Regions from separate parts of the Homo sapiens genome. Here all the other regions are linked to region 1. Evidence: fine-mapped expression QTL. A gene starts in region 1. Each other region holds a variant in brackets. All regions are shown on one strand. Distances are from middle to middle.

Region 1 (8,187 bases):
AACAAATAGGCCGGGTGCGGTGGCTCACGCCTGTAATCCCAGCACTTTGGGAGACCCAGGCGGGCGGATCACCTGAGGTCAGGAGTTTGAGACCAGCCTGGCCAACATAGTGAAACCCTGTCTCTACTAACAACACAAAAATTAGCCAGGCATGGTGGCGGGCGCCTGTATTCCCAGCTACTCAGGAGGCTGAGGCAGGAGAATCGCTGGAACCAGGGAGGTAGAGGTTGCAGTGAGCCAAGATCACACCACTGCATTCCAGCTTGGGCAACAGAGTGAGACTCAGTCTCAAAAAACAAAACAAAACAAAAACAAAAAACAAATAATCCCATCAAAAAGTGGGCTAAGGACATGAATAGACAATTCTCAAAGAACATATACAAATGGCCAAGAAACATATGAAAAAATGCTCAACATCACTAAGCACTGGAAATGCAAATCAAACCACAATGAGATATCACCTCACTCCTGCAGAAATGGCCACAATTAAAAAAAAAACAAAAAATATTAGATGTTGGCATGAATGTGGTGAAAAGGAAACACTTCTACACTGCTGGTGGGAATGTAAACTAGTACAACCACTATGGAAAACCTTAAGTATGGAGATTCCTTAAAGAAGTAAAAGTAGAACTACCATTTGATCCAGTAATCCTACTACTGAGTATCTACCCAGAGGAAAAGAAGTCACTATATGAAAAGGACACTTGCACACACATATTTATAGTAGCACAATTTGCAATTGCAAAGTTATGGACCCAGCCTAAATGCCCATCAGCCAAAGAGTGGATAAAGAAAATGTAATATACATATATATAATATGTATACATACACACACACACACACACACACACACCATGGAATACTACTCAGCCATAAGAAGGAACAAAATAATGGCATTCACGACAACCTGGGTGGAGGTGGAGACCATTATTCTAAGGGAAGTAACTCAGGAATGGAAAACCAAACATCATATGTTCTCACTTATAAGGGGGAGCTAAGCTATGAGGATGCAAAGGCATAGGAATGATGTAATGGGCTCTGGGGACTCAGGGGGAAGGGTGGGAGTAGGGTGAGGGATAAAAGACTCTACATTGGGTACAGTGTACACTGCTCAAGTGATGGATGCACCAAAATCTCAGAAATCACCACTGAATAACTTATCCATGTAACCAAACACCACCTACCTGTTCCTCCCAAACTATTGAAATAATATTTTTTAAAAAGGTCACACGAGTCCTATGAATTCGGTGCCACTATTATTCCCATTTTGTAGGTAGGAAGACTGAGGCCTAGAGTCATAGTTAAGTAACATGCCCAAGGTCACAAAGCTGCTAGTAAGAGAGAACTGAGATTTGAACCCAAAAAGTTTAGCACCACAGTCCATGCTTAAACCACAACTATTTGTCCACGGATAATATGACTAATACTAGTCTATTAATATAGAGTACTTCTTCTGTCCCAGGCCCTATGCTAAGGACTCTACATAAATTATCTCATAGATCTTACAAGGTTGGAGCTCTTGGCCCTAAATTATTATGCAGTATCTTATTTGATTCTTTTTTTTTTTTTCGAGACAAGGTCTCTTTCTGTCATTCAGGCTGGAGTGCAGTGGTGCAATCACAGCTCACTGCAACCTCCACCACCTCTTGGGTTCAAGCGATCCTCCCACCTCAGCCTCCCGAGTAGCTGGGACTACAGGCACAAGCCACCACGCCTGCCTAATTTTTGTATTTTTTGTAGAGTCACCATTTCACCATACTGTCCAGGCTGGTCTCGAACTCCTGGGCTATAGCAATCCTTCTGCCTTGGCCTAGGATTAAAGGCATGAGCCATCATGCCCGGCCTTATTTGATTCTTAAAGCAATCCCATGAGTTGGCTATTAGCATGTCCGTTTTACAGATAAAAATACTGAAGCACAGAGAAGTTAAGCAACTTGATGCTCGTGTGGAAGTATCACCTCCCTTTCAGTAACACTTCCTATACACACTGTAGGGATCCATATAATATAAAATAATGCCACAAAATTTACTATACAATTTCTACCTCAAAGCCAAGTTCTCTCAGCTTTTCAAGGCCTCTGTTCTAAAGTGTTAATGGGAAGGAGTAACAATGGCCTTTCCTCTTTTCTCAACTTGGGAGGATTACAGTGACCCTCTCCAACAGTCAGTGGCCCACTTTTGGTTCCCCTTAGTAGGAGAACACACCCACACAAGCTCTGTCACTGGAAGCCTGTTTACAGGGCTTGGATGCTGTATATAAAAGGCATTATTGTGTGAGTTTTTATTTTGTTTTGTTTTGCTTGGAACTGGTTTCTGGAAAAGACAGACTAGCAATCCATTACTGGGGACCACCAGTCTGCTACCTCTGTTTAACTCAGTGGCCAATGACAGTGAAAATAAACAAGTACTCTTACTACCAATCTTGATTAGCAGAGCAAAAAAACGATGACAACAGGGAAGGCACCCGGGGTAGGCTTACTTCCACTTGGAGGGTTGCACATCCTTTCAGGAAGTCATTGATGTTGTTGATGCAGTCAGCTTCAGTTTGGGGATCCAGACAAAACTAGAGGAACACAGTGAAATGTCACTTGGAGATTGTCATCCCATGCCAAGCAAAGTATACTCATCATTTGCTGATAACTAGAGAAAGCAGGCCTCTTAAGGTGTGGGGCAACACTGCTGTCAATCCAGGAAGAGAAATAACCACTGAAGGAAGTGATGCAAAAATCTAAACGGTCGATCTTTGTTTCAAATGTCACCAAACCTTTAGTGGCAAGCCATGTCTACTTACAAGCTTTCTCTCATGCCTTCTGTTCCAGTGTGCTGATGGCAAATTAGGGAGACCAAGACAGTTTTTTGAGCTTAGTTCTTGCTTTCAAGAAAGGAAGCAATCCCTGGTACCTCTCTCTCCTCCTTCCCCCTGATAATTTAATAAAATTCTATTTCCCCTCTACATTTGACCACACTTCTTTACATTTTATCACTATTTAATCACTCTTTCTCAAGTTTAAGAAATTATAAGTAAATTTATTTGCTCAATAAAAATACAAACTGGCTCATGAAGGCAAAAGTGCTATGCTCACAGTCCATGATGACCTTAAGAAAGTAAATGTAAAATTGTACCTTTAAGCTTACTTAAAGTGCCTACTTTAGAAATTATCTATTCTCGTGATCGTGGATTTCCAGCTATTAAAAATCTTGAATTGTTTTAAAGAGAGTAAAGTTAGTTTCACTTTGAACGCACATTGCATTCGAAACATATATCTGGTTTCTATTGCTTTTACAAACTTTATGTGACATTTTGAATTATTTTTTTCCTAGTTGCTATATAGTCTCTCCTTCAATGGATTTTTCTAAAAGGAAATCTACACTGATTTTAATCAAACTGCCAATAAACACCACCAAGATCTGTTATAAATCATTCTATTTTTCCACAGACTCATAAGTACCCCAAGTTCAAAACATGTCCTCGGTACACAAGGAGATGTAACATGCATCTCCATGATAGAGCAAGCTTGTGATATGAGTGTTCTCCTTGTCCCTTGTTGCCAGTGGTGTCACAGGTTTTCCCTATACTACAATTTGGGGGCCAATTACTAAAGAATAACGTTTCATTTTCTTACATTTTCAAACTACAAAAACAGTAAGAAAGAATGTCTAACTCTTAGAAAAATATTAAAGTAGGAGATTCCCATGGCCTGGGAAATAGAAAAATCTCAAGAGTTACATGATTGCTGCTCTCTGGTGATAAGCAATCCCAAAGAGACTGCAAATTTCCCTTACCTTTTCCACAGAGCCAGGCATGAGTCTGTTGATCAGTTTGCACAGAACTACCCCATTTTTCAGCGAGGACTTTAAAAACTCCTCCGGATCACAGATGGTCTTTTTAGGGGACTCTAAAACTCCCAAAGATATAAGCCATGTCACGATTTGTTCTTCTGGATTCATTACTGAGGACGGTACACTCCAAACAGCACTCTGGGGCAGCTGCAAGGACTAAGCCACATCCGCGATTGCATCTGCTGTTGTCTTCCTTTTTATGAGTTCTCTTCGGGTGCTTGCAGAGCAAAGGTTTAAAGCAACTTTTCTTAAACAACAGCGGAACCCACTCAAAATATGGGATTTTAAAACCACAGAGATCACGGTCCAAGATGTGGAAACAGATAAGAATTAATTTAACAATCCTGGATAACGCTGGTTTTTCCTTTTCAAAACCTGCAAAACAAATTCGTTAGGATAAAAAAAAAGAAGAAACGCACATGCACACACGCATACACACACACGCACACAGAGTGCAAGAAGTTATAAGGGAAGAAAGTGAAAAGGATGCTGGGGAGGGAGGAGAGACAAGCAAGCAAGTGCTTTGGGAAACAGAGGTGAGCCAGCACTTCAGGGGACCTTGGAAATGAGACACTCATGGGCCAGTCTGGGAAAACACTGTCAATAAATAGTCTAGCCCCAGTGAAAATCTGGCTTCTGTTAGGAGGACGATGCCAACTGGCTCTTAGGTCAGACAGATCTGAGCCTCATGGGGAGATGTGCTGGCACAACAGGGCTCAAAGAAGGTAGACAGAAAATTCTTCCAAGAAATAGCCGGATGTCCTCATAGTATCTCCCAGAGATGGTGTGTCACGATCATTCCTTGCAAAACACGTTGAGTTGCATGGTGACAACGTGCCAAGCAAACGAAGATTATGCCTGCTGTCAGCCATCACTGTGTATAAGCAGAAGCTAGAAGAATGGCATTTTACTTTGCAGCCAAAAAGCTATGTTTAGGGAAATAGGCTAAGGATAACATCTGACATCCTGTTTACTTGCATTCTTTAGCAATTCTTTTTCTGGACCTGGTTCCACTACATAATCCAGCTGCAGTACCCTTAGCAAAGGCTCAGACTCAGTCACATAAGTGGGTAAAATACACTTGAAAAAATAGAATGTTTGAGAACAAAAGAGCACTTGTCCTCTGTCTACACTACAATATGGAAGATTCTTATTTTCCCAACAACAACAACAACAAAAAAACACTTTGCACTTAAAATACTGCTCTGAAAAAAAAACTGTCTATAACAAGAGATCTTCATCATTCTCAAACATTTTCAGAACCACTTGAAATAGGCATACTATTGGGAAATTTATGATAAGGCCAACTTTAATAGTATAACCCTATGTTGGCAAATGTGTGGCACTTACCATGATTACCTCTCCTCGTGCATGGGAGACATCAGATCATGTATAGCTCTTTCCTACTAAGCCTCAGAATTCTTTTCAACACAGCTTCAGGCATCTACTACCAAAGAATCAGCTTAGATAACCCTACTAAACATTTTCAAAGCTGCCCTTTCTTGCTCTGTCAGGACACTTGTCACACTTTACTATTATCACTTGTTGATCTGATGATCTGACTCCTCCACAAGAATGTAAACTTCCTAAACTCGGGGTCTTGTTTTTTTTTATTTAACACTGTGTTACCAGCAGACTGCCAGGTATACACAGTAGATGTTAAAAAATGCTGAATGAATAAATGAATGTATTCAGATGGTGTCCCTGATATAGACAGTAACTGATTATAGCAAGGATTTTTTGTTTGTTGGTTGGTTTAAATGGCTTAAAACAAACATTTTTTCTTGTTAATGATTTTTACCATTTTATTAAGCTGTAATTGACACATAAGGAACTGCATATATATGATTTAATGAATTTTGACATATACATACATCTTTGATACAATCACACAAATGCAATCCAGATAAGCCTTTCCATCACCCCCAAAATTGTCCTCGTGCCCTTTCAATTCTTTCTTTCCTCTTTGCCTCCAAATGCCAGGCAACCACCAATCTATTTTCAGTGTCTATAGATTAGTTTGCATTTTCAAGAATCTTATATAAATGGAAGTACACAGTATGGTACTATCTTTTTTCTGGCTTCTTAACTCAACATCATCATTTTCATACTCATTCATGTTATTGTGTCTGTCCATAGTTCTATAACAAGGTTTGCTTGATGTACTTGTGACTTAAGCAAAATAAGTATAATCAATCAAAAGTTTTCATTGACGTTGACCCATGGCCAAATCTATGTAATGGAAATAAAAACAGAATACATTTGTTGATAAATAAAATTCCCAAATCTGACGAACTTAAACACATTTTTATATGTCATCTGAACAGTTTTCACAACTGCTCATCAAAATTTTACTCTACAGACAAACAAAATCTGGCAGTATTATTGAGGTATCACTTACATCTTCTGATGAAGAACAAAGCCTGAGTAAGTTTTGTGAACCCAGCCTCCTCCAAAACAGTCTTGAGTTCACCAAGGTCATCTGGATAAAACTCTGCCTCATTTTGGACACTCACTATAGCAAATATTACTATGAGTAATAAAGTATATCAGAATGGCAAGGCCACTGCCTCAAGGCAAAAGAACCAGTTCTATTTGTATAAAGATTGGAAGTTACAGTTGGTGTGGTAAAATGTCAACAAAGCAAGGAATTCCAGGGCAGTGGCAAGCATATAGGTGAAATGGGTACCCATGAAACCCAGGCTGGTTAGGGACTCAAATGAAGCTAGAAAGGAGCTGATGAACTGAGGGAATAGGGGAAGAGGGGGAATTCAAAGACTGGGGGTCACAGCAACACAAAGAGCAGGCTTCACACAAGAGCATGAGAAAAAAAAGCAAAGATCTCTCACCCTACCTCAGATCCTCAGTACCACACCCTCTGGGCCACTGAACCTGCCTCTTCAAGGGCTTTCCACCTCCATCCTCTCATCCTAATGAACTCTCTAACAGGGCACATTTGGGTTGATTTTCCAAAAACACCTCTAGTGTTAATACCCCTGTTCAAAAACCCTCAAAGGCTCTCTATTGCCTAAAGCAGGAATTGACAAAAAACAATGTTCATATGATCATCTCCTGTGAGGCATAAAGGAGAAAGGAAGGTGAGAGTGGAACTTAAGCTAAAATAGGTAACATTTCATGAAAAATCAAAAGATCTTCAGGAAATAAGGCAAATGTGAACATTTGTTAAGACTGAATGCTGGGTACACTGGTACCTGTTTTACTATTTAGTTTTGTGTGTTTAAAATGTTACTAACCGATTCTCTTTCATTTCAAATCTACTAAGGCACTTACTAAAAAAGAATATTTGGGAGCTCTCTTCCCAGATACTCCAGTTCAGAAGATCTGCAGTGGGAAAAAGGAATTTGTGTTATCAAAGTATCCCACTTGATTCTGATGCAGATAGACCAAGGTCACACTTAGAGAAATGAGTTTATTGGTCTCTAACCTTCTACACCACTCTAATTTCTGCCAACACTTGGGTCATTTCAATATCCACAAGAACAACAATCCAACATCAAGACCTCTCAGTTCCTTGAACTTCTCAACCTGTAATCAATTTATTACCTCTCATTTCCCCTTTATGCCTATTCTGTGAAATGGACCTGGGACCTTGAAATATTTCTGACTTTGCCAGCTGGCATGATACAAAGTTTTATCAGTAGGCAGTGGTGGAGAGACATTGCAGGAAGAAGGGGTTTTACTTCCTGTTTTCTGTGCGCTCACTCCACAAGCTCCTGCTGAGCTCCCAGCTTTCCTATTGCCCACCTTCTGCAGCACTGGTTTTCCCAACAAACAGTAGGTAGCAACCTCCCCAGGCACTACCCTTGAGTGTTTAGGCAGCAAAGAATCTCTGATGAGACAGACACCTTCCATGTGAACCAGCACCGTAGAGGGGTATATTTCAGCAAGTTCCAGAGAATGTACATCCAACAAGTTCCACCAACTCAGCACCAGAGCAACTTCTCCAATAAGGCCTGGATCTCGACCGTGGGTGGAGAGGAGGGTTATCACAGCTCTAGAGGTATCGGCCATTACATATTATTTTTATATTGTCTGCTATTTATATCTGCTATCCCATACTTTTTAGAGTTTCCTTTATTTATTACTAACCAATTCTTCAACACTCCAATCCCCTGTTATTGTTAATTCTTTATGTTAAACTCTTCTTGTTAAAATTACTATGTAGTAGGCTGGGCACGGTGGTTCACACCTGTAATCCCAGTACTTTGGGAGGCCAAGGTGGGCAAATCACCTGAGGTCAGGAGTTTGAGACCAGTCTGGCCAACATGGTGAAACCCAGTCTCTAATAAAAATACAAAAATTAGCCAGGCATGGTGGCGGGCATCT
Region 2 (8,187 bases), 120 kb before region 1:
AAACCCAGTACATTCCAACCGAACTCTTAACTTTTCCCCCCACACAATGGGATCTGTGTTCAATGTTTCCCAGTCCAATGAATGGTGTCTTTATCTACCCAGTTTTTCAAGTCAGAAACCTGGCTTGACTTCACTCTCATCACCCCCATGTTCAATCCCTCCAGCCTATGCTCATCAACCCTATCTCTTAAGTAGTCCTTAATCTACTTCTTTCTATCTCTACTATTTCTATCCTAGTCCCAACTGTCACCATCTCTCTTCTGGAATAGTACAACAGCCTCCTAGATTCCCTGCCTCCACTCTTGCTCCCTTCCATCAATTCTCCATGCACAGCCAGTCCCCTGCTTCTTATGAACCTTGGAATAAAGACCAAAATAATCAATTTCATCTCCTGCTGCCACCTCTCTCGGTCTCTTAAGTTCTAGCCCTCAGTTCCTCTAAGCAAGGTTACAAATGCTTTCCTACCTTAGGGCCCTGGAATGCTGTTTTCTCTTCTTGCAAGACCCATTTCTCTCCCTCACTGCACCCTGCACTTAGCAAGTGCTTCACAGCACTTATCATGGTTGAAGTTTTCCCTACTATGCTGTGAGCTTCTTGAGGACCAAGACCTTGTCCCATTCACCATGATAACTTCAGCGTCTACCACAGGACCTAGCATTGAATTGGCCCTTTATTTGGTGCATGAAGGAATAAATGAATGAATAAATACAGCTGCTTATAACTCAATAGCCCAGAAAATAATTCTGTGTGTTGGCTGAGGCAAAAATTTGCTACACTGAAAGGATCCTCATTAGGTCAAAAATATCTGGATGATAAAAATGCACTCATGGAGTAAAAAATGACTGAGAATTATGCTGTAGCTAAAAACAGATAATATGTTTTTATTATACATTTCATGATAATTTGCAAAATAATATATGTTTGTTCCAAACTTCAATTGAACATTTTCAGCATTTTCCTATAAATGAAAAAGACTCGAGTACATTTCTGATGTACCTGTAATAGTCTGATCATAAATTATCTAACTTAGTTCCATTTTTATAATCATGTCACTTCTGCCTTCTATCTAAGGGGGAGGGTGGGAATGTTTGAAATACCAAATAATTATTTCTAGATAAAGAGAAAATAAACAAGGATAAAATATTACTGCCTCTGTTATTTGATGGTTAGCAAATGACCACAAAACGCAAACAGTGTGCTCTAGCAAGCTGTCAGAACAGGGGTGCCCCCACTTAAACGGAAATGACATGTAAACTTTTGGGCTTCAGGAGAGAATACATTCTGTGCTACATTCAACTATTTTCACAGGGCCCAATGCCACTGTGTTGGGAACTGCACTGCTTTAGACTTTTAAAGTAGTCTGAAGTACTTTGAGACACAGAAACATGGAACTAAGTATGATTTTTATGTTATTTTTCTCTGTGAATCACATCCCCACTAAAACAAAACAAAACCAGAAATGCTCATTGTAGTGTAGTAGTTAAATCTCGAGTCAGACAGATACAGTCTTAATCTAGGCTCCACTATTAACCAGCTTTATAAGTACAGGCAAGTCATTTCACCTCCTCTAGTCCTCTGTGTCTTCATCTGTAAAGTGGGAATAAAAAGAAGACATGCTGGGCCAGGCATGGTGGCTCACGCCTGTAATCCCAGCAGTTTGGGAGGCTGAGGCAGGTGGATCACTTGAGGTCAGGAGTTCGAGACTAGCCTGGCCAACACAGCAAAACGCTGTCTCTACTAAAAACACAAAAATTAGCCCAGCATGGTGGTGTGTGCCTGTAATCTCAGCTACGTGGGAGGCTAAGGCAGCAGAATCACTTGTACCCAGGAGGGGGAGGTTGCAGTAAGCCAAGATGGTGCCTGTGCACTCCAGCCTGGGCGACAGAAGCAAGACTGCATCTCAAAAAAAAAAAAAAAAAGTTTATAAAGATTCAGTGAGATTGTCCACAGAAAGTCCCCAGCAGAATCTGCTCTCTGGAGAAGATCATCATGTAAGAAGCACTAAGGTGGGTCTCTACATGGTCCCCAGCACACCTGTCTGCATTCAGTGGTGCAAGTGGACAGGGTGCCATCTTAAATGGTTGAAACTTCTGAGACCAAGGAGAATGCCTGGCAACCCAGGTACACATGAGAGCCTATGCTCATGTACTAGACCAAAGACCACACCCAATGTGAAGCAAAGTGAAACCAAAAAAAAGAAAGAAAGAAAAAGCAAACATTACAGTAGACCTGTGGATAGCAAAGACCCTTTTTTTATGGTATAGTTTTATTGTCAAAAACTGCTAAGCGCTGGGGGCTTGGAGTTGCCAAATTTTTCAGTAGGTTTGAGAAGATTACATATATATATATTATATATATATATTATATATATTATATATATATTATATATATTATATATATATATTATATATATTATATATTATATATATATATTATATATGTTATATATATATATATATATATTTAGATGGAGTCTTACTCTGTTGCCAGGCTGGACTGGAGTGCAATGGCATGATCTCGGCTCACTGCAACCTCTGCCTCCCAGGTTCAAGCGATTCCCCTGCCTCAGCCTCCCGAGTAGCTGGGGCTGCAGGTGCATGCCACCACGCCCAGTTAATTTTTTTTTTTTTTTGTATTTTAGGAGAGATGGGGTTTCACCATGTTGGCCAGAATGGCCTCGATCTCCTGACCTTGTAATCCGCCCGCCTCAGCCTCCCAAAGTGCTGGGATTACAGGCATGAGCCACCGAGCCCAGCCGAAGTTCTATATTTAGGAATGTTTCTTTAAAAGACGATGACCATTGATTCCCAGTCTAAGGGGCATCAGCACACAAACCTCCCCCTTCCATACCACACTTTCACACTCCTCTGAGTCATTCTTCAAGCAATTCAGTAACTTTCAGGAAACTGCCCCACTCCTGCAGTTCCACTGAGTTATCTATAAGGTAGCTGCATCCATGGGTCTGGAGATCAGGAGAAAAGTCAGAATGGAAAACTGTGGACATGGGAGTCATCTGCATTTTGATAAATGAAGTTATGGGGGTAGTCAAGGTTGTCTAGGAATAGGCTATAGATTGGAAGAGACGAGGAAAAGAGGATCAGCAATGTTCAGGGGACAGCCTAAGGAGGCAGGTCCAGCAAAGGAGACTGAGGGGTGACTGAATGAATGCCAAGAAAGTGTGGGCTCATGAAAACCAAGGAAGGAGAGATTCATCAAGAAGGCAAGGGTCAAATACTGCAGAGACGTCAAGGTGAGGATCGAAAAGCCAATGGATTTGTCAATTATAAGCTTAATAGTGACTTCACAAAGGTGGATGGCTAAGGTAGGAACCTTAGCATGTACCAAGTGTGCAGGAGGATACGTGATAGAGAGAGCATGGGTCCAAGAGTCAGACAGACTAAGGTTTCAAATTCCAGCTCCACCATGTACTAGCAAGTTACTCAACATCTCTGTGCCTCTGTTCATTTGTAAGTGGAGATAACAATAGTAAATACTTAATAAGGTTGTTGTGAGGCTTACATGAGCTTAATCGTGTAAACCACTTAGTACAGTGCCTAGCACACATGAGATGCCATGTTCTATCTATTGGCTCAGAGCAGGAATCATAAACCACTGAAGGTATCTCAGGCAGAAAGATAATCAGTTGTCTACAAAACCATTGGGCTACATAAGTGGAAGTCAGGGGAAGTCAGGAGGCTGCCACTGGACTAATGGCTTCAAGGTCATATCATTGCAGTTGTGATCCACATGTTAGGAGGCTGCTGCCACCACTACAGTCTCTCACTCACAAAGCTGTGAATAGACACACTGGAATGTGGAGTACAGAAGCCACAAACACATCTTTGGAATCACCTGCTGGCCACCAAACCCCAAGAAGATAGCCTCTGCCCAACTTAAGCCTTCCAAATTTTGTTGGCAGAAGTGAACATGTATCTGAACCCACATTTTATCCAGAACCCTAGCTGCAAGGGAGTCTGGGAAATTGATTTTTCAGCCTTTATGTTTTTGGAAAGAAACAGAAAAGGGGTAGGAATGCATGTGGAGCAGCAGATAATTTCCACCTCATCAATCTTTAAGTGGAACGAATATTTCCATCCTGAGTGCTGACACCAGCATTCCAACTGTGGTCAAAATATAGGATTATCACTGATTGACAAAATCCTGCCAAATTCAAAGAGGAATCAGGACAGGAATAAATATCAAGGGATAAGCTTGAGCAGGAAAATACATTTTTCTCTAATATCAAAAAGCAGATGGTGAGCAGGGATATAATTTATAGGTTTGGGCCAGAAGAAGAGAGGTAGAGAAGTTAAGGAAGGTTCTGTCTCAGGGCATGTATTATCTCTGTAAAGTTGGGAGCAAATGTCATCTGCCCTGAGTGAAAAAGGTTGAGACTGGCTAGAGGGCTTGGTGAGAGCAGACTAGCTAATGAGGGAAATGGGAGAGGAAGCTGACACAGCACAAGAAATCTTTCTGCACACCGGCTAGCAAAAAAAGAAGCAAAAGACTTATTTTTATAAAGCACTGTTTATTTTTATGTATTGAAAATGTCCATTTTAAAAGTCTTCAAAATAAAAACAAGTTAGAAAATTTGAGCTTGTGTTAAGAAGGGGAAGGACAGAAAAGGAACTGAAAGGCCTCTAC[G/A]GGCAGCAGTTTAATTACAGGGCAACAGGAACCCATTTATAGAGTATTGTAAACAACACAACTATGGCGACACTGCTCTCAGATTAACATGGCTTCATTTCCTTTATATTATAGTTTAGTGTGTAAGCATGGTTACCACTCTGCACAAGCTTCGTTATCCAGAGTACCGAGGGCCCCTCATCAGAAGGGCCAAGTCCCCGAAACATGCATATGTACTCATCACTGTAAAATGAAGACCTTTCAATATTTTCAGCAATCAACTAAAGTATTCCGTAATCACAAAAATGTTTCCTATAGATGCAGTTTGCACATTTATTGCAAGCCATTGACTAACCACAGAATGGGCAGATGTGAAGATCTGTGTTGATGTTGTTGGTGGTGGTGGTAGTACTGATGTTTTTAATTTTTAAGTGAAGGATGTTATATCTAAATGGCTGTGCTAAAAAACAGAACAACAGCCATTCCTAGAAATTTCTTTACTCTTCAGCTTCCAAACACGGCTGTGTGTGGTTGGCTGATGTTGGACTGCAAAAATAGTCCATTTCCTGTGGATGGTGTAATTTCTGCTGTGCAGCAAGCAGACAACAGCCCTGTACCATGTAGCTATGGGACCTTGAGACTCTCAGTACCAAAAATAAAAAGGGCTCCTCAGCAAGCTGGGGGTTTCAAACTTCAAGTTTTGTTTTTTCAGAGACAGAGGTGTCTCTCTGTTACCTAGGTTGGAGTGCAGTGGTGTCATCACAGCTCACTGCAGCCTTGACCTCCTGGGCTCAAATGATCCTCCCACCTCAGCCTCCTGAGTAGCTGGGACCACAGGTGTGGGCCACCATGCCTGGCTTCAAGTTTGGTTTTTAAACAATATTTGCAAAACCCACATTTATAGGCATCCATCAAATATATTATAAAGGCAATTCTGATCAGCCCTTTGGCCTCAATTTCCAGTGACCTTCCCCATCTGGCCAAATTTCTCTTGTCTTTTGGGGAGGGAGGGGTGAGTGGCACTGAGCCTTAGGCCAACTTTCAATGGCGCTGAATTTGGATGTGTGCTGTTCTGTGACTGTCTTCTAAACCTGGTTTCTCACAGTTCTAGTTTCTGGGATAAAGTGGATGATGTGATTCAATGAGCAACTTGAGTTAATCAGTCCTGAATAATCCAGCACACAGCTACTAGAGGGGCCCTTTTGTTCTGGATGTACAAGTTGGACCAGAAGCATATTTCTGCAAATACTGCTTAGAGTCCCACCCAAAGAGGCCAATTAATATTACAACTTCTCACAGCATATATGAGAGAGTAATAAAGTGAATGAAAGCTGTCTAGTAGGGCACAATATCTTCTTAATGCAGATTGTTTTGAAGGATAAAACATCACAGTTTGAATATGCAACGTACATAAAGTAACTCCTCACAGTCTAACTACATTTTTTTAAAAAGTAAGCAAAGCACATACATACTAGTTTACACACCACTTGGTAAGGTTGGCTAAAAGTACTGGGGAAATAGAAAACTTACACACTAGGCAGAATGAGGGAAAGAAACCTATCATGCAATGGGAAAAGGCGGTCAACTCTGCTACTAAAAGGGAGGATTGTCCAGTAGAATTTGCTGATGGATTTGGTGTTGGTGTGGGTGACCAGAGCTTCTGCCCCCCTGAGTTACAATTTACATGACACAAAAGGAATAAGGGTACTACAGTTTTCTTGGTCTTATAGACAACATAGGGCAGTAATTTTAAAACCTGTGATTGAGGGGAGGCATGTGATGGTCTAAGGAAGGGCAGCTGGATCATTGGGCAGATGTGTTTGTCTTTCATCCTACTCAAGCCATAGTCTGGAAGATTTGCCTTCGGTAAATTAAGTACTAAGAGGCTTGCAGGTACAGGAAAGCCCTGGGGAAAAGTTGGGTTCACATTTAATAAGCCTTGGCCAGCTGCTTTGCAAGGGCAGCCAGCCCAAAGAATGTGACCTGAGGGCAATGGCTGTTGCAGAGGCACTGTGAACTGAAGGCAATCTGAAGACCTTTTAAGTAACTGGCCTGCATTCCCTTTCTCTTTCTTACTGAATGGAAAAGACTCTGAGGCCATCTCTACCACCACTTCCTGCTTTTTCACCTGTTGAAAAAAAAAATGAACAACCAACCAATAACCAAACAACAGCAAATGCCCAAGCGCGCACGTGCACGCACACACATATGCACACAGCGGGGAGAGAAAGAGAAGAGAGAGGGAGAGAGAGAGAGAGACTCAAACACAAAACAAAAGCCAAAGAAGTGAGCAAACTGAGTCAAATCATTCAGCGGGACATTTCAAGATGCCCTGAAGGCACACTCCACCCAGTGGCACAGTGATGGTTATGGAAGAATTGAGGTCTTGCTACTGGACTCGCCTCGAATACACTCATCTGTTTGCTTCAAAAGCCTCCGCACCAGCTTTTCTAGGTCCCTTCTTGATTTCAGTTCTTCTTCCAGGCATTGCTTCATTCTTTTATTTTCCTATGATGGGGAAAGATTTGTTGATTATCAAACAGAGGGGGGCCCTTCCAAGGGCTCCTCCTGCTCATCCTCGGGGCAGCTTTCATCACTGACTCTCTTTCTTTCCTCGACCTTCCCTCCCTCAGCATCTATGACAAAGCAGCCTGTCGATTCTCCTGCCTGTCTCTGGGAAACCTTTTGGATTCTTCTTCCCTGCCCTGATCCTCTTCTAATTTAACTTGCTTTTCACTTAGTGTCACTTCTGTTTCAACCCAAGTGTCTATTAAGGGGACTCCCAAATATCTCTGGTACTGACCTTGTCTCCTGAGAATCGGGTCCACAATCTCAACTGTCAGCCTGGTATTTCTTCTTCTTCTTCTTCTTCTTATTATTATTATTATTATTATTATTTTATTTAAGAGATGGGGTCTCACTCTATTGCCAGGCTGGAGTGCAGTGTAATCATGGCTCACTGCAGCCTCAAACTCCCGGGCTTAAGTGATCCTCTCACTTACCTGAGATTACCTGGCAGCAGCTTGGTATTTCCACCTAGATATGTCACAAGCACCTTAAACTCATCAGGTCCTAAAGTGAACTCAGTATCTCTCTCAACACCCCAAACTTCTCCTCCTCCTGTGATTACTGATCTCCATGAAGGGGCACCACCATATGCAACCAGACACCCTGGGAAGAAGCTTCATCTTTAATCCCTGGCTCTTTCTTAATCTCAAAATCATATTATCCTCGTCCATAGGTTCAAACTCTGCAGTATGCCATCCTTTACATTCGTTTCCTCCTCCCCAGCCTCATTACCCTGCCTCAGTTCAGGACTCTGACAGGTTTCACCCTGAGTTTTGTAAGAACCTCCTAAGTGGTCTTCTAGTCCCTGGTCTCTCTCCCCTCGCATCCATCCTTCACTCTGTCACCAGATACAGTCAGTCCTCACACACAAGGCACAGTGTGCATCACGGAGCACTAGGCCACATCGGCAGAAAAGCCCACAAACCATGATGAATGGTTCTCTTTACACTTACACACTCATGAATGACTAGTCTTTTCTTAAAGTCTGTTTATGGA
Region 3 (8,187 bases), 38 kb before region 1:
CCTCTTAATGTAGCTCCAGCTCAAGGTCCCATTCCTTATCATCATGCATCTGATTCTCAACCCAAATCACCCCACCATCCACTCTTACTTCCATGCTTGAACTTAAAAGTTCCCTCTGATCTTCTTCTCCCAGTCAGAAGCTTCTTCTATCCTTCAAGACCCAATTCAAGTGCTTCCCCACTCCTTATGTTATTGTTAATCAAATTGTTTCTTCACTGTTCCTACAGCATCTTACTCAGTCCTTTGTCTGTGCTACTTACTGTGTCCTGGCCTGTAACAGTTAGTTCTGCACAGACCTGTGTTGATTACTAGACTGTAAAGGTGCTAGGGGACGGGGTCTATGAGGTATAGATTGCGCCTAGGAGGTACTCAGTGAACAAGCTGAACAGAATTGAATTACCTACGCTGTAATATTCATTCATTTTACAAATATTTACTGAGCATAAACAAAACGAATGAAGTCTCTGCCCTTGTGGTATTTACAATTCTAATGGTAAAATGTAAACAGTAAATGAAATAAATAAGTAAACGTGTATTATGTTAGACGGGGAAAAATAATAAGCAAAAAATTTAAGCAGGGAAGAGGGATAGAGGGAGTGGGGATAGGGTTAAATTTTCTCCTGGGTGACCAGGAAAGGCCCTCCTGTGAAGTAGGCAAGTGAGTGGACCTGAAGGAGATGAGGGAGCCAGCTGTGCTGATAGCTGGAGAATGTTCCAGACAGGGGGACAGCAAGTGAGGCAGGAGCCTGTCTGGCACAGGCAGCCAAGAGACCAGTGTGGCTAAAGTGGAATGAGTGAGGGGAAGAGAGATCAGAGAGGAAGCCAAAAGGGCAACGGAAGGCCAGATCCTGGAGGACCTTGGAGGCTATTGTGATGGCCTTGGCCTTTTCTTTTATTGAGATGGGGAGCCATGACCCAAGTTACATTATTATTATTATTATTATTTTTAGACAGAGTCTCACTCTGTCACCCAGGCTGGAGTGCAGTGGCACGATCTCAGCTCACTGCAACCTCCGCCTCCTCGATTCAAACTATTCTCCTGCCTTAGCCTCCCAAGTAGCTAGGACTATAGGCATGCGCCACCATGCCCAGCTAATTTTTGTATTTTTAGTAGAGATGGTGTTTCTCCATGTTGCCCAGGCTGATCGCGAATTCCTAACCTCAAGTGATCCGCCCGCCTCAGCCTCCCAAAGTGTTGGGATTACAGACATGAGCCACCGTGCCCGGCCCCAAGTTACATTTTGAAAGAATCACTCTGGGTACTGAGTTTAGACTGGATTATAGGAGTGACAAAAACAGGGGCAGAGATGCCAATTAGGAAGCTGCTGCCATAAGCTAAATGAGAGAGGTTGTTCCATACACTGCTAGTTCCAGGCCTTCCCTGACTAGCACTCATTTCCTGACCCAAGCAACTCAGACCTGTCCTTGACAGTTGGGTTAGATGCTTCTAAGGGTTACCTAAGTGCTCAAGTCAGAGTCGGAGCTTGCCACATGAATCCTAAGCTGAGTCCTAAACCAGAGAGAATATAGGAGAAATTTTAAAATGAAGGCCCCTAAGACCAGAACAAATAACCTGGGGCAGTCTATAAGGGAGTGGCCAGACTGCTACAAGGAGTCACAGTGAGGGACATTATAAGGAGAGTCGTCAAAGTGAGGGTGTGCTGTTCACTTCCCAGGTCCCCTCGCAGTGCTTGGGATTCCTGGACAAAATTACTGCTCCTTTTAGTTTTGCAGATAAAGACACTGTATCAGGGAACAATGTTAGAGTGAACCTGGAAAATCTTTTAGGGATTTTCCTAAATTATATCAACAAAATTATATCGATTGAAAGATGTAGTGAGAGGTAAAAATCGTCTGTGAATATCATCAAAACCAAGGAAATTCCAGGCAAAGCCTGTGGAAATACTCCAGGGCTCAATAGAACCTTCTTGATTCCCAGTAATTAAAAATGCTAAGAAGTCTCCATATACGTATATAATTATAAATCTGTTAGTAAACATATTCCATTAAAGGGGATACCCCTTTTAACACAACATAGAACACAGAAAAGTGTGAAAATTAATTTTATCTTAAACACTTTAGGAAAAAGCTCCTAACTCTGGTTGTCGGGGGGAGAGTGCAAAGAGAAGAGGAACTTTCATTATCTACATTATACAGCTGACCCTTGAACAACATGGGTTTGAACTTTGCAGGCCCATCCCATTTATACGTGAAGACAATGAAAATGAAGACCTTTATGATGATCTACTTCCACTTAACTAAGAGTAAATGTATTTTCTCTTCTTTATGATTTTCTTAATAACATTTTCTTTTCCCTAGCTTACTTTATTATAAGAACACAGTATACAATACATATAACATACAATCAGTAAGGCTTCCAACCAACAGTAGGCTATTAGAAGTTAAGTTTTGGAGGAGTCAAAAGTTATACATGGATTTTCTTTTCTTTTTTTTTTTTTGTGTGTGTGTGTGTGTTTTATTTATTCTCAGTCTTAAAGTCGTAACTTTAGGGCAGTGATGAAAATAAAGCAATGCTCTGAACACTAGAATCTAGAAGTAACTAATAAGCCCTAATGATCCTACTGCCTTTAAGGGTCTTCAAGTTCCACATGTTTGAAGAAGGAAATTTATGTATTGAAATCATTCTAGAGAAGGCAAGGAAAGTGTGGGAAATCCTACCAAGTTACTCTGGAGAAAGACAGCTGCCTCCAAATATTCACATATTTCCCTCTTGATGAAATTGATGGAATGCTTCTTGATATTCTTAGTGTCTCATCCAGTACCTGCTCCATATTGAATGAATTGAGCCCTTAATGAGATGCCACTCAGGTGCCAGCCTTCAAGAATATCAAAATGAATCAGAAATTTTCAGCTCTCAAGAGCTCAGAGTTATATACGGATTTTCAACTGCATGGGGGCTCGGTGCCCTTAATCCCCATGTTGTTCAAGAGTCAACTGTAGCCAGGCGCAGTGGCTCACGCCTGTAATCCCAGCACTTTGGGAGGCTGAGGCGGGCGGATCACAAGGTCAGGAGATCAAGACCATCCTGGCTAACACGGTGAAACCCCATCTCTACTAAAAATACAAAATTTAGCCAGGCGTGGTGGCAGGCGCCTGTAGTCCCAGCTGCTGGGGAGGCTGAGGCAGGAGAATGGCGTGAACCCGGGAGGCGGAGTGTGCAGCAAGCCGAGATTGCGCCACTGCACTCCAGCCTGGGTGACAGAGCAAGACTCCGTCTCAAAACAACAACAACAAAAAAAAATAGAGTCAACCGTATATTTCCAGAATGTTTCATTTTACTTACAGTGAGCCTAAAATTTTATTAATTAATTAATAGTATCAATTTTGAGGCATTGAAAAAGCAATAAGATATTTACAAAAGAAATAATGCGCTGAGCTAACCACTCAAAAGAGCCCTTGTGTAAATATTTTTGAAAAGTAAAGAGATGTAATAATGTGAATAACTAAATGCTGTTTTATGTGTATTGTGAGGGACATATTCTTATGTATAAGGGTTTGCTGGGTTTTTTGCAATATCAGAAGAGCCTACCTTCTTAAACAATAAAGGGCAAGTGAATTATCAAAAAAACTCTAAGGAAAACTACTGAAGAGTGGCCAGGCACAGTGGCTTATGCCTGTAATCCCAGCACCGTGGGAGGCCGACACAGGAAGATCACTTGAGCCCAGGAGTTCAAGACCAGCCTGGGCAACACAGGCAGATCCGTCTCTACAAAAAGTTTAAACATTAGCTGGGTGTGGAAGGCGTGCACCTGTAGTCCCAAATACTTGGGAGGCTGAGGCAAGAAGATCACTTGAGCCCGGGAGGTCCAGGCTGCAGTGAGTTGTGATAGCCACTGCACTCTGCCTGGGCAACAGAGTGAGACCCTGTCTAAAAATAATAATTAAAAAAAGAGAGAGAGAGAAGAAAAGACTACTGAAGAGCAATTCGATTTCATTCTCTGGCTATTGTTACAAAAAAAAGGTAAACAGCTAGCAGTATTCAGTGAGTTAAGGGCAATCTTGTTCAGCATCAAAGCGGCCAGACAGCTTCCTGCAGCCCTATCATTATTATCTCTCATGTCTGAGGCATTTAGTCTCAGGTCTGCTTACAGGGCTTAAGGCTAAAAAAAGGAAGTTAGCACATGGCCTCTCTTATTATTGGATTCTGCCATGGTAAGTTTTAGAGTGGT[GAGA/G]AGGACTATGTACTATATTACATGGGCTAGAATTAGTAGACATAAAGGGATACAGTTAGGGTGGACCAGTTGTCTGAGCTTTGAATTCCTTTGCTTTTTTTATTTTTCTGCTGCCTTAATGTAATCTAAATACAATTTGTTTCAAAATATCTAATCACAGATTTTTCCCAGTTCTGTTCTACTCTTATTTTTGGCATACACATACAAGTATAAACAGCTTCTGTTAACCAATTAAAACTACACAATTTTCAGTAAGAATACCAAGAAAGTACAAGAGTCACAATCAAAAAGCCTTTTAAAAACTTCACTTACCACTGGATTTAATTTCACGGACATAATTACTGGGGAACCAGCCTGTTCTCCCATTTAATGTGCCTTCCCACCAGCCTCCTTCTTCAACTCGTGTGACGTAAATGATGTCCCCCTTACAAACTGACAGTTCATCCTCATTAGTCTGCTTAAAGTTGAATCTTGCTTTTACTATCAACTGATGACTTCCATTTTCCGTCATCTCCTAGAGAAACAAAAGCCACACCAGATTAAGCACTCATCTAAATAAGGCAGGGGTAGAAATGATATGGATATAGGCAAATAAAGTGGAGGAAGCAAAGACAAAACCCCAGATCCATCTCAGTCCTGAGTTTTTAACTTAGGAATCCATGAATGGGTCTCAGAGGGATTAATAAATCCCTCAAAACAGTATGTAAACTTTGGCATTTGTGAGAATCTGTATTTTGAAGTGGGTCATAGCTTTCATTTTTCTCTCCACACCCCTCCCCATTATCTAAAGATTATCTATTTAACTAAGCCAGATAACAAAGTAGAGTGATAAGCTATTCCACCCTGGATAAGCTATTCCACCCTGCCTCTACTCAACACACAAACAGTCCACATAATTATATAACCAAGATGTACTAACCTACCCTCCATAAAATCTGCCTCCCATCTCCTAATTACTAAGGATATCTTAATTTGGCTAAGACTTATTTATATGCAAAGATCAAATAACCCATAGTTGCCTAAGTCAGGAATTCTTTTTTCCATTTTTTTATTTTTATAGATTTAGGGGGTACAACTGCAGTTTTATTACATGGATATATTAAGTCAGGAATTCTTAATCTGTCATGTATAAACTGGACTTCCTTTTTGAGGGTCACAGACCCTTTAGAGAATCTGATGAGCACAACATATTTTTGTCTAAATAAGTTCATACACATGGGCTTTTGTATACAATTTGAGAGGGTACCAGGGGTGTAGAGACATAGTGTTCATCAGCCTTTCAAAGGGATCTGTGATCCAAAAAAGTTAAGAACCACATGCTCAAGTGCTTTGGAAGTAATAGGTCATAATGTCTTACTGCAAGTGGGTGGCTTTTGACAGGAAATAAAGGTTTCACCCAAAGAGCAGAAGATGAGGCATTTCCTCCCAAATAAAAGCTCCCAATAAGAGCAAGTGAAAAGGCAACTGGGAGATCCTAATATAGAAGCTCATCATAGACTGAAATTTAAAATCAAGCCTTCCTCATTAGGAATGGAAAGAGAAAAATAAAAATGGCAATAATAATGAGGATACTAATCAATATTTATTGATTGCCTACTATGTGTCAGGCACTATTTAGTTCTAATAAAACAAGGGATAGGGAAATTAACAGCAAACTGCCATCAGAAAGTAGCCATAATGACTTCCATTTGCATAGCATTCTCAGTTAAGTGACTTGCCTAATTCTCGTAAGGGACAGAGCTGGAGCTTCAATCCGGATTTTTGCCCCACCACATGCCTTTGATTTGCTCCTTCGGGCCAGCCTGAATTGGTGCTCGGTTTATAATTAGTTTTCTCAGTGATGCCCAAAACAACCCGGATGGCTGTCTCACCACATATGGAGATGCAACTAGGATATCAATCTAATTTTATGGATTTTAAAACAGACGGAGAATTGGGGACTATACTTACCACTGTCTTTGACTGCCTTTGCAGCCCTGAAACTGTGCTAGAAACTGCTCCCTGTGGGTTTGTCTGAGAAGTATTAGCAGCACTAAGAGAAGAGGAACGTCCACATGGTCTTTCTGATAGCTGATCTGTGAAAAGAGGAAAAGGCATGTTAAAGGAACCACTCAGATCAGAAAAACATCTACCGCATAACATTATCTTTCTCAGGATACTATCAGAGGCATCCTGGCTGTAATTCTAACTGTTATCATTATGAACATGCCAAGTGTATTTCAATCCCCCTTCCCTTTTTGGTGGCCAACTTCCTGTTCTTAACCTTACTGGCCATCGTGCTCCAGTAGAATGAAAAACAGCGACAGAACCACATTTTCTCTTAACCATTTCCCTACAACTCTTCCCTCCTGAACCAGTTGCAACAGTATGCCCTGTTATCCAAGGCAGAACTATATTGGGTACCAAACAGCTGTTTGTGGCTCTTATTACTTTGAAATATTTCAAATTTCTCTCTTTGTTTTTTGGCCCATAACTCAGTGGCTCATTTCTTACTCACACGTAACAATATGTGTGGCATATATGATGTAAAATCTCCCTGATGTGTGTGGGGCAGGGTGGAGAATGAGAGTGAAAGAGAAGATGTGTTTGGGAAAGATGTAATCTTGATACTAGAATAATTTTTTTAACAATCAGATTCAAGAGTCTTCTCTTCCTTGAAACCTTGTGAAATTCGACCAGGCCAGAGCTGAGCTGGATGTTTTCAGTTTGTTGAGAGTATACAAAAGAGAGGAGCTGGCTTCTTGACAAATTTCAATAAGGGTTCTTTTCCTCTCCATTTATTTTTAAAAGATATAAACTGCAAAAGTCTAAAGCCCAAACATTCCCTAGGCGACAAGCTCAGTATCCAAGTAATTTCCTTGATGCTGTGGGTTTTAACTTTCACCTCCTTGTATTTTATAAATATCTGTGGCAAGGGAAGAGACTGTAAAACTTGCTAGGAGAGTTTGGCAAAGGAACGTATAATTTGTGTGGCATAATGTTAGAATTACACGATCCTCCCTGACTAGAACTGGATAGTTGTCATGTGTGTTAAATATAGTTACTTGAATTAGCTGTACTTTCAGCTATACGCCTTGCAATAGCTCAAAAGCATTTTTTTTTCCAAATAGCAAAAGAACAACTTTGGAGAAGTATTTTTACTTGTATTGCTATTATATACAGCTCTTTTGACAAAAACTATAATTACTCGATAGCTTCCTAGATGCTCTAACCTATTTGGCACTTGATTATATTGTCTGCTCTTGTCCTCTAATTGTTTCACGTGGGTAAGTTGAGTCTCCTTAAATAGACAGTAATTTTCTCAAAGGCAGGGACCATAGCTTTGACATTTTTTGTAGCACCTGGCGATGCTGGGCACACAGCCTCTTGACTCTACAACAGTTTGAGCAGCAAGCCTCGTGCTTGGGCATAAGGGCTCTGTAGTCATTCAGATGTGGGTCTGAATCCCAACTCAGCGACTAACTTTCTAGTTGGGCAACTGTTGGCCTGACTTTCCTTATCTGTAATATGGACCTAATAATAATAATACCTACCCCCAGTGTTGTTTCAAGGATTGGATGAGATCACCTGTGGCTCTTATGACAGCCTAGATCCAGGGCAAGAGCTCAAAGCATTTTAAGTATGATTATTACTATTCAGCTGTTGGTAAAATATACCAGGGAAGGAGTGAAGCTACATTCTAAGTGTATCATCATTTTCTTCACATTTACTAGCATTTATATTTAATACCTCTAGTGTGGTAGGTGTTAAACATTTAAATAAAAGATATTATTTTCACTCCCTATGACCCCAAGATTTCATTTTTGGTGCAAGGCTACTGAGGGGTTCCTTTACATGGACAAAGGCATACATAAAACAATGAGAAAAATATGTCTCTAGTGGGGAAAGGGAAGTGACGGCTGTATTTTGTAAACTCTATGAAAAAGGGAACTGGTCTTTCCTTTTTCTTCTCTGTTTTGTTATACTCAGTTGGTGATTCAGAGCTTTGAATGGA

Direction of the effects. Positions count from the first base shown, and alleles are read on the strand shown. Sizes are in standard deviations (SD) of each study's normalised expression. Not every link is listed here.
For the expression in monocytes after interferon gamma of the gene that starts at base 3,998 in region 1, A is the low allele of the variant in region 2 and G is the other (large effect, 0.85 SD a copy in Fairfax 2014).

What was found.
Region 2: its variant is fine-mapped to the expression of ARHGEF6 in monocytes after interferon gamma (Fairfax 2014, PIP 0.95).
Region 3: its variant is fine-mapped to the expression of ARHGEF6 in nasal epithelium (TOPMed, PIP 0.91).

What each region holds. Positions count from the first base shown.
Region 1 is chrX:136,776,935-136,785,121 of GRCh38, forward strand. ARHGEF6 (Rac/Cdc42 guanine nucleotide exchange factor 6) reads right to left here and starts at 3,998. Exons shown (of 22, transcript NM_004840.3): 1 at 3,784-3,998; 2 at 2,480-2,563. The coding sequence starts at 3,948. RefSeq lists an enhancer at 2,434-2,653.
Region 2 is chrX:136,661,039-136,669,225 of GRCh38, forward strand. ARHGEF6 (Rac/Cdc42 guanine nucleotide exchange factor 6) reads right to left here. Exons shown (of 22, transcript NM_004840.3): 22 at 4,512-7,131. The coding sequence ends at 6,991. Among named protein-coding and RNA genes, the nearest start is that of CD40LG, 17 kb to the left of the region's middle. RefSeq lists an enhancer at 5,247-5,336. The variant G/A (reference allele first, on the strand shown) is at 4,645.
Region 3 is chrX:136,739,080-136,747,266 of GRCh38, forward strand. ARHGEF6 (Rac/Cdc42 guanine nucleotide exchange factor 6) reads right to left here. Exons shown (of 22, transcript NM_004840.3): 4 at 6,144-6,268; 5 at 4,506-4,707. Among named protein-coding and RNA genes, the nearest start is that of ARHGEF6, 38 kb to the right of the region's middle. The variant GAGA/G (reference allele first, on the strand shown) is at 4,191.